Regions from separate parts of the Homo sapiens genome. Here region 2 is linked to region 1. Evidence: fine-mapped expression QTL. A gene starts in region 1. The other region holds a variant in brackets. All regions are shown on one strand. Distances are from middle to middle.

Region 1 (5,384 bases):
ACCGTTCAAGTTAGTAAGGGATATTTCCAGAGTCTGAAATCACAAACTCAAATGTCTGCAGGAGTGAGGGAGGTAAAATATATGAGTGAAGCAGGACTTGATGAAATAAAGGCAGAGGATGGCAGCAATGTGGCAAAGTGGAGAATGTATACCCCACCCAAAGTGGGCAACTCATCCTGGCTTCTGCCATGAGCAGTTGCAAGAGCTGTCTTGCCTGGTCCTCCATTTTTTTCAGGAGAAGCCAGGACTCCAGGAACTTACACAAAATTTACTAATTTGAAAATACCGGTAAGTAAATCAATTATTTTAAAGTACTGAGCTGACCCAAAGAAACATTTCTAAAGGCCAATTTCAGGCTTGAAACTATCGCATACGACTTCTATATGAGGTTCTGCATTTTTTATCAAGACATGATCTATAACTATAAACATATCGACATTGTCTAATCACCCTCAGATATCAGGAAAAATGGATATTAACAGTGGCTATTTTTTTTAACTGCTTACCATATTCCAGGTACCTACTGTGCTTAAAGTTTTACATGCAGTATGTCACTTAATTATCAGGAGAAGCCCTTTAGAAAAGCATTACTGTAACCCATATTTTCATAAAAGAAAACTGAAGATTAGAAAGTTTTTAAGGTCATAATGTTTAAGTTCATGGTAGAAATTACGTGTCCAATGATAGATGATTTTAGTTCAAAAGAGTAATGCTTCCCAACTTGAGGTTCCTAACTCCCAATGTGTCGCCAAAGTAGTAAGGGATCGTCTGTGTATCAATTTGAAAGCTTATCAGAAATCTTCTATTTACCCTCTAATGAATAACTGAATTTGTTTCCTATTACTAGGGGGAGGGAGTTTGTTTGTTAGGTACAATCATTCAAATTATCAATTCCCGGACAAAACTAATGAAAGGATCCTTGTTTATAAAAAGAAAAAGAAAACGCAGCTGGAAATAACACTGCAAAAATTATTTACATAATAAACATTTTACAAACTTTATATGATTTATATAAAAGAACTATACATTCTAAAGGGTATTTCAGCCTCCAAATATTTATTTATCAAAACCACTTGTAGCAAATAATGGACCTTCAAATATTTTGGATTTGACAGAGAAAGTTATTTTTCAAAGAATATATGCAAAAAAAAAATTAGGCTATAAAGATGCAGTCGAAAAAGGACAAGATGATGCTATCAAATTATGTGACATGACCAAATTTTAATATATGTATATATACACATATATATTAAGTTGATATTAAAGATTACAAAATTGAATCTTTTAGTTTGCATTTTCGTCCCCAAATAATAATTTTAAAGGACTAAGACAAATGAATGTAATTTTTCACATGCTAGACATCTCATCAATATATTCATAAAGCCCATGTTATCTTTGAAAGCTTATGCATCTGTAAATTTTCCCATTTTAAAATAATTATCTTTTATAATGTAATAAAAATCAATATGGCACGAATAACATGCACCCAATTTATCTGTCAAAACTTGGCACTTAGGTTCTGGCAAACCCAGAACACTTGTCAATTTTATCACCTACCGTTAGCAAAGCTTGAAAATAACGCATAACAATGCTCAGACGCCAAAACTTTGAATACTGTGTCCAGGCTGCACTGGGGCCCTGGGCCTGTAACCCAAAACAAAAAGATCATGGCTTTATGGGAGTAAACATTCAGGATCTGGGGAAAATAATCAGAAGTTGAACTTAGAAACTTCTAGGTAGAAGGGCAAGACAAATAGTTTATTCCTCAGTAACTAAGTTTTCGCACTTTTACACAATGAACAAGGAACTTAAAGCCCCTCATTTCATATGCTGGCATTAAACAACTCTCAAGCTACCAGATCCGTCTGAATTATAAAAATGCTTAAGAAGGTTTAAGTGCACCTGTACAATTAGTTAATTCACCAAGAAAACTAGAAACAACCAGAAATGAAGATTCTTTTGAGTTTTCAAAAACGCTTAGTGTGTAGGGTTCAGTGGCATTACAACAGTCATTTCAAGGCTTATGGCCAATTTCCATTCTAACAATAATAAAATTTTTTTTCTGGAAGGGGGATAGTAGCAAGGTGCGAGTTAGCAACTACTTGGAGAACAGAACAGAGCTGTTGGTGAGCAGACTTGAAAGGACATCCTTTCCTGGTAGGTTTCTCTATTTCTCAATAATGATCATACTTTTCTTGTCTGCTCTTTCTCCTTAAAATTAAAACTCCTTTACGGATGCATTTGGGGTTGCAGGGAGCCCAGCTCCACCGACCTGCTTGTTCTGAGAAATCACCCGGAACGCAGTTCCCTCAGGGACGGGCCGACCCAGCGCCACCTGTGGGCGGCGCCGCAAAGCCCGCGCGCGCCACAGGTCTCCGAGGCGACACCCGCCAGACTCGGCGCCTCCTCCCTCCAGTCTCCCTGCAGGGCCCCCTCAGTTCTCGCCCCTCGTTACTCTTCGAGGTCCTCCCCTTACGTTTCCTTCCCAAGTTCACCCCTAAAGATCTTCCTTCACCCCTTACGCCACCCTTCCCGTTCCCTCCTCCTGTTTCCACTTCACGTTCACCCCTCCCGTTCCCTCCTCAAGTTCATTCCTCACGTTCCCTCCTCGAGATCCCCCCTCACTATCCCCTCGCGTTCCCTCCTCGGGTTCACCCACAAGATCTTCCCTCAAGTCCACCCCTCAGGTTCACCCTTCCCGTTCCCTCCTCCTGGCTCCCCCTCGAGTTCACCCCCGCCCCCGTTTCCCCCTCAAGTTCATCCCTCTCCTCCCCTCGAGCTCTCCCATCCAGCTCGTTCAAGCCTCACATTCCCCCTCTTGGTTTCCCGCTCTACTTCTCCCCTCGAGTCCCCTCTCTCACCCCAGGCCCCGACAAACACACAGGTCCTCCGGATCTGACCTGGGCGGGCGGGCGGTCGCGGCAGCCTCGCGCTCAGAGAGCCCCGGGCCCGCCCTGCAAGCCCCGGGGTCCAAGGAAGCGGGGCCGTTTCCAGCGCCGCGCGGGCGCCGCTACCCACCGCCGCCCCAAGCCAGTCCCCTGCGCTGTCCCGACACGTACCTGGGCGGGAAGCCGGGCGCCTCCTTATTTCTTTACGGGGGCGCTGGCTACGGGCGCTCCCTCGAGGGGCGGGCAGGGGCAGCCGAGCAGGGGAAGAACTGGGCCGCCTGTAGAGGGCGGGCCGAAGGTCGGCGGGAGGATCTGACCTGGGTCAACCGAGCCGAAGGGGCCCCTTATCCCGGCTCGCGGGGAATATTCTTCCTCTCGCCGCTCTCTCCACTGCCCGCAGGTGGAGGCCGCGCCATCCGCGCCATCCACATCCTCGCAGGGCCCTTGGCTGGCTGCCGAGGGGCTTCCCGGGACTCCGGCCGCGCTTCCTTGGCCCGGAGCCCGGCGAGAAGGGAGTGGGGCCCCTGGATCCTGGAGCCCTCATGGACTGGCCCAGTGCCTGGAGCAAATTCTGCTCCCGGCCCCGCGTAGTATCTTCCTCCCAGGAAATTCCCCACACTACGAGGGTCTCGGACCCGGAAAATGTAATGGGTTTCAGGTCCAAGAGGGATAGTGAGTGGCTAATGAGATCGCTCCCAGGGTCCAGTTCCCTTTTGCAGACTGCTAAGGAGTTTGGGGCTGGGGCTGAAGTTAAAGGCAAGAACTTCTACCCTCGGGAGGCAGCCCGTTAGTCACCAACCCTCTACTTGGTCCTTTGCAATCCTTTCCAGACCTTCTGTGGTCTCCTGTCACACAGGGCTCACCTGGGGGGACCCTGATGGCCAGATTCTCTTGAACAGTCTCTAGGGACATATTGGGTATTGCTATACCTTCATCCATTGAACAGGTGAGAACTACAACCAAAACATCCTTTGATTCTGTTAATTATCTCAATGGGTCTGTCGTTCATGTTATCTAAATGAGAATTATAGAAGAGACCAAAGAGAGGTCATCTAATCCTAATCAATGCATATCTTAAGGAAAAAATGTGATGTTAAAAATCTGTTTCAAAAGGTCATTCAGTATATTCAAGACCCTTCCTCTTAAAGTAGCTTTAAAATTTAGAAATTGGGCCGGGCGCGGTGGCTCACGCCTGTAATCCCAGCACTTTGGGAGGCCGAGGCGGCCGGATCACAAGGTCAGGAGATCGAGACCATCCTGGCTAACACAGTGAAACCCCGTCTCTACTAAAAAATACAAAAAAATTAGCCGGGCATGGTGGCAGGCCCCTGTAGTCCCAGCTACTTGGGAGGCTGAGGCAGGTGAATGGCGTGAACCCAGAAGGCAGAGTTTGCAGTGACGGAGCCGAGATCACGTCACTGCACTCCAGCCTGGGCGATAGAGCGAGACTCCGTCTCGAAAAAAAAAAAAAAAAAAATTAGAAATTGAATAGTGGACTTGTAATAGGGATTATATTGAATCAAAAGCCTAACATATATGAACAGCTTCAAATCAAGAAGTTATCTCATCAAAAACAGATCACAGCAAATATATTATTCAACATAATTATGGCCATTTGGACATACCTGGGAGATTTTAAGAATTAGAGCAACTGAGTGCTCACATGCAAAATAAAGTCACAATCTCAATAGAGACAAACAACACCCAATTAAAATACAATAGAAAAATAGATCCCATTCACAATAGAAGCATGAAAGAACATGAAATAACTAAGAATGATAAAAAATGAGAAATATAGGAGAAAAGTGGGAAAAAATTTAAAAATGCAGGATTGTTGACAGACTATTTATAATTGGAAAGACACTGGAATCCTAAGTTAGAAGACAAGATGTTAAACACATAATTACTACCTCCCAAATTAAGAGACAAATATATTCTAGAATTCATATGAAAACTACAGAAGCTAGAAGAGCTAAGTCCAGTGGTTCTCAGAGTGTGGTCTAGGGGAAATTTGTTGGGGGTCAGGGGGCGGTCTCTGAAACCATTTCGGGAGGTTCACAGGACCAAAATTACTTTAATAATAAGACTTTTTTCCACTCCTTTTTCTCTCCCATTTTTTAAATGAATTTATGATGAAGTTTTCCAGTGGCTCCATAATATGTGATATCACAACAGATTGAATGCAGAAACAGGTAACGTCTTCTGTTATGCCAGACATTAAAGAAATGTGCAAGAATATAAAATAATGCCATTCTTACCATTAAACTTTTTTGGTTTTGGAAAATACAGGTATTTTTCACTTAAAAATATGCTATTCATGTTAACATGTAATGAGCTTAGTAGTGAAATATATTTTTAAAATTTCTCAGTTTTAATTGCTATAACATAAAAGTTCTTTGGAGTCCTCAAAACTTTTTAAGAGTGTAAATAAAGGAAGGTTCTAAGACAAAAAAAATTGAGAACTTTTTTTTTTTTTTTTCTTTGAGACGGAGTCAG
Region 2 (5,384 bases), 36 kb after region 1:
GGATAAGGAAGGGAGTCTTTTGTGGGAAAAGTACAGGTGATGGGGACCAGCTTCCAGTAGAACTGGTCTGTCCACCTCGGGTTGCCCAGGTTTCCCTGCACCAGCAGAGGTGTGGCCCAAGCAGGGCATGGGTCTCCAGGTGCCAGCTACTATCTCTGGGGGCTCCATGCACCATCTCTGAGCTTCACACCAAACTGCAGAGGAAGAAACTGAGGCCAACAGCCAAAGTCTGTGCTCTCACCTCTCCATCGCGCTGGTGCTCACCTTTAGGGTACTCCAGGGTTAAAGCTACATTTCAGCAAAGCCACAGAGATCAGGTGCAGAGTCACAGCTGAGGGTCTGTCCCTTGGGCAAAATGGTTGGTTTTCAGTCTTACTGTAATACTTTCTTTACCATGATGATTTCTATCATATATCCACCAATGTTTCACTTCCTCGGAGACGTCTTCTGCAGGGGTGAAGGGAAAGTGTCCCCTTTGCTCTTGGAAGGTTTGCTGAAAAATCAACTAACAAGAAGATTAATAAGAGAAAAGGCATGCAGATTTATTACTACCATGTACACAGGGAGAATCACAGAGTGACTGCCTAATGTCCCAGTGGGATACAGCCTCTTACATACCCTACTTCTTAGGGAAAAGTGTGGATCATTTTATGGAGATAGTAAATAATTTTTAGGGGAATTCAGTGGGCTTGAAGAACATACAATGGTTTAGGGCAAAGTCTGTTGGGCCCTCAGAGCGGATAAAGGTTGTGACAAAAATTTATCCAGGTTTGTTGTCAGACTTTAGTCTTCCTTCCTGTGATATGGGTTCAGCAAATGAAAACTTAAGAGAAAGGACCTGAGGTTATTGTTTTCTTCTCTGTTAGGTCTAGATTTTAGGTAGATAAGACAACTTTATCTGTGCTTTGGGATAGGGAGAGGATTTGGGGGTGTGGGGGTTGAGATGGATTGTTCTCCATTGTTCTTGGTGGGTCTGTCTGATCTTTAATTCAAAACACTCAGTATACCATATACCATATTTTCAGGTGAAGTTCCCTGTGCTCTTTCATTCTTTAATCAACAGTTTTTTCTTATTCCTCTTCATATCACTTTATGTTAATTGCTATTGCAATTTCAATGTTTTTTTTACAAATGAATGGTCATTATAGGAAATTGAGACATAATGCCAAAACAAAAATGAAAATGAATCACCTATATTCACACTACCAAGATATAACCTTGGTTGAAGTGCATATTTCCTTTTAGGTTGTAAAAGTATTTTCAGAATCACATTAATTTTTTAAATACTATTTTACTTTACTCTCATTTTAAAACAATAGAACACCAAGAGAATCTTCCCATGTTGTTACCTATTTGTCAAAACAAAAACACTTAAAAATATTTATAATATTCTAGGATATGGCTATGGCATAATAATTTCCCTGTTGCTTGACATTTAAATTTGTGCAAGGGAAGATTAAACTGTGGTAACAGATATACCAAAAATATATTATGATACAAACACAATATTTAGATGTACCTAACTAGCAGAAGGGAAAAGAGAATTTGGAACAGATACACTTGTTCTTTGGTTAAGGTTATTATTATTTTGAAACAATCTCAAACTTATAAAGAATTGCAAGAATGTTTTTATTCATGAAACATTTGAGACTAAGCTGCCTACAGGAGGCCTCGCCACCTCTGAATGCTTTAGTGCATCTCCTATAAACAAAGATATTCTTCTACATAATTACAATACCACCATGGAAAATTGGTGGAAGTTAACATGCTACATCATCGTTATCTAATCTTTGGACCCCATTCCAGTTTCACCAGTAGTCCCAACAATGTATTTTAGTAAAATGATTAATTGAGAATCGCATTACATATTATTGTCACGTCTCTTTGGTGTCCACAAATCTAGAGCAGTTCCTCAGTATTTCCTTGATTTTCACAGCCTTGGTACTTTTGAAGATTACACATCAATTATTTTTTGGGATGTCCTTCATGAGTTTCTTTGAGGTTTCCTCATGATTAAATTCAGGTTATGCACCTTTGTCAGGGATATCACAGAGGGCAGGCTCTAGTCTTCTCATCATCTCTTACCAGGCAGAACACTACCTAGATTTGTCCTATTACTAGTGATTGGCACATTAAACATTTGATTAAGGTGATATCTGTCAGGATCCTTCACTGTAAAGTTTATCTTTTCCCTTTTGTCTTTAGTGAGTATAGTATTGAGATGGAGGAGTGATGCCTCTCAGGGGCC[C/T]GCCAGCCCAACGCCCCATCCCCCACAAGCATGGAAAGAAAGGGAAATCTTGAGTTATTTCAAAGGAAATTCCAGGCACCTAGCTAGCCTGGAGAAGTAAATGAGCAATTTGATAAGCAAGAAGGTAATAGTAGCTTAAAACAACAGACAAGGAAGTTAGAGTCACAAGATGTTTGGTTTCCTATAGAAACAAAAGATAACAGCTTAACATATATCCCCGAGTTGTTTTTCAGAAACCCCATTTCCCATGAGATGGAAAATGCCATCCACTGGCACATAGAGGGAACCGAGGATTGAACTGTGACCACCTTTCTTTCTTCTAAATTTCTTCCTGAGGGGCCTGGAGGGGGTAAAACCCACGGGCCACAGCTAACATTATTTTCTGCTGACCTCAAATTTTTAGACAAATCTTTTTGTCCTTAACCAATCACAAGTCAGAAAATCTTTGAATCCACCCAGGACCTGTAGGCCCCCGCTTCAAAATGTCCGTTTTTCTTTTTTTTTAAGTCGAATCAATATATAACCTCCATGTATAGATTTATGAGTTTGCCTGGAACCCCTGCCTCACTGCCTTTAAAAACCCTTACATGTAACTCATTGGGGAGTTCAGGTCTTAAGCATGAGCGCCCTGCAATAAATGCCTCACTTTTCTCTTGCTGCAAATCCTGATATTAGCGTTTGGCTTTGTTTCATTGGGTGGGCAGACCTAAGTTTGGTTCAGTAACGGTGTTTTGAAGGAAAGGATTTTGAAGCTGTGTTATCCTACTGAAGCAGCATCATTCGTCTTTATCTGGGGTAAATACCCCAGGTTTGTCATCTCAGGCCAGGGAAATCGAGGACTCAGACACACAAGAAGTGAGTTTAAGAGAGGAGCCACTGCACTCCAGCCTGGGCAACAGAGCAAGATTCTGTCTCAAAAAAAAAAGAAAAAGAAAAAGAGTAGAGGTTTAATAGCTGAAAGAAAAACAGAATCGCTTGCGGGAGAGGGAAGGGTGGAGGTTTTATAGACTAGCTTGAGGAGGCTGTGTCTGATTTACACAGGGTCCAAAGATTGGTTGGACCAGATGTGCCATTTACATAGCACGTGAAGAAGCTGGCCACCCCACCCTAATCTTTTATTTTGCAGATCAGTTCTCTACCTGTCCAGGGCCATGTTGTCTGTTCCTTATTGTACACGTGGTTGACGAAAGAAAGGGAAGATGGAGCCGCCATGTTACACATGCCTGGCCCCCAGGTAGCCTTTCCCTGTTCGCACAGCTGCCAGCATTCACCTGTGCAAGCTTCGAGCTTGCTTATCTATGCTTGCAGCTCTATTTTGCAGGCTGCTTTTTTTTGATAGAAAAGAAATGATTTGGAGGCTGCTTTTTATTAAAAAGAAAGCAGTACTGTGGGCTGTCTTACCCTCACTATCTGCCTAAATAATTTCTTCTTAACTCCTATATCACTACATTATCCTACTTTCCCTCAAAATTTTAATTATTCATTATTAATTTATATCAATATAGACTCATGGATACCTAATTGATTCGATAGGGTATAATCTATTATTATCATTTATATTTATGTTCAAATAATCCCAGACTTGGCCAGTGGAAGTTCCTATATCATTTGGACGTATCTTCATATTCTTTAAGCTCTTATTTTCTGGCACAATGAGATGTTCTAGACCCATCTTGTACTTTCTTACCCCAGCCCTCGAATCTGCCATTTTTCCAAAGAGTCCTAGTTTCTTTTAGTGGATACTGGTTTATGTAAACCTGTCATCATTTAAACATTTATAGTGTCTTCCATTATGTTTATATCAGAAAGTCCTTGCCCCACTAAACTAATTATTTATTTCACATTTTCTTCTAGTTTTCTACCGGCTTCCTTTATTATGTTTAGTTCCTCATTTGGAATTTAATTGGGGCATGTTATAAGCTGAAGCTCTTGTTTATTGTTTCAAGTAATTAGCCAATTTCCCATATAATTTATGAAATAAATGCATCCCTTCCCTATGTACATTCTATTTTCAAATAAATTTCAGGGCTGTTCATTCTGTCTGCTGATTACTTTGCCACAGCCATGCAGTTTTCATTATTGTAGCATTCTATTACATCATAATGTCTGTTAGGGTAATTTCCCAACACAAAAAATCTTACATGTCAATGGACTAGTATTTTCTGCTGCCAGAACACTTGGAAGAATGGTCCAATGACCTAGGAAACTATTTGGAGTTTGAGGATTTTGTGTCATTTCCCAAATGTTGTTACGTATGAATCTGTTTCTTTTGCGTGCCCTGGATTTTTAAGAGGGAAGAATATATGTTGTACACAATATACTGGCAGGATACAGACATGCTGGTGGCTTCTTACTGATGAGACAGTTCATCAGAGCATCTGCAGGAGAGTGTAACTAACCAGGAAGGTAGATTTTGATTCTTCCATACAAAGAGAATCGCTCAGTTGTATTTCAACAACTTTCTTACCCCCTTGTTTCCTAATTATCAGGTGTCATTTGTGCAGAACAATTTGCACTTCAAAGCAAAGCTAGGGAACCACCCCAGACAGCATAGAATTAAAATCTAAATTAACCTAAGAATCAAACCACAAAAACATGAAAACAAAGCATTAGAAAATAAACAGGTTTTCATTTTCATACTATAAAATCCAGAAAATTTATTTCATTGTATCCTAATCTGGTTATCACTGTGCCTCATTTATTCCTCCTGGTGACTGAGATAACTGTGCTCATTTGGAGGAGTGATGTTTTAGTTGGGTGTATGGTAGGCAGCAATAAGGCAGCAAAGCAACTCTACACCTTTGTCTTTATTGGTATTCCACAGGCAGGGCTGCTAGTGTGTCCTTAATTTCTTGCTTCACTGATTTACAAATGGTAACTGTATAGCTGGGAATGAACACAGTGGTAGACTAAGGAGGGAAAAAAAAAGCCCCTAATCTCTTAAATGGCCAGCAGGCAAGTGTCCAGACGGCATTGTTATCTGAAACAGCAGATCGACAATGGAAACATTGATGTTGCATGATAACGAATCACAAAGCTAGATGAGGCTACTAGGTCATTGGTGCTTAAATGTTTCATATTGTTTTCAAAGGTGCAACTTTTATTACTCAATTCTGCAATGGCACGTTTGCATAGA

The links. PIP is the estimated chance that this variant, and not a neighbour inherited with it, causes the effect.
Region 2: its variant is the best candidate, but not a certain one, in a credible set for the expression of MYO3A in aorta (GTEx, PIP 0.72).

Annotation. Positions count from the first base shown.
Region 1 is chr10:25,932,004-25,937,387 of GRCh38, reverse strand. It overlaps MYO3A (myosin IIIA), which reads right to left and starts at 3,159. Exons shown (of 35, transcript NM_017433.5): 1 at 3,060-3,159; 2 at 1,558-1,644. LOC101929073 (a long non-coding RNA gene) reads left to right here and starts at 3,678. Exons shown (of 4, transcript NR_120650.1): 1 at 3,678-3,834; 2 at 5,027-5,080.
Region 2 is chr10:25,896,391-25,901,774 of GRCh38, reverse strand. LOC124902396 (a long non-coding RNA gene) reads left to right here and starts at 4,412. Exons shown (of 5, transcript XR_007062091.1): 1 at 4,412-4,654. LOC124902397 (a long non-coding RNA gene) reads right to left here. Exons shown (of 2, transcript XR_007062092.1): 2 at 1-505. RefSeq lists an enhancer at 138-247. The variant C/T (reference allele first, on the strand shown) is at 2,249.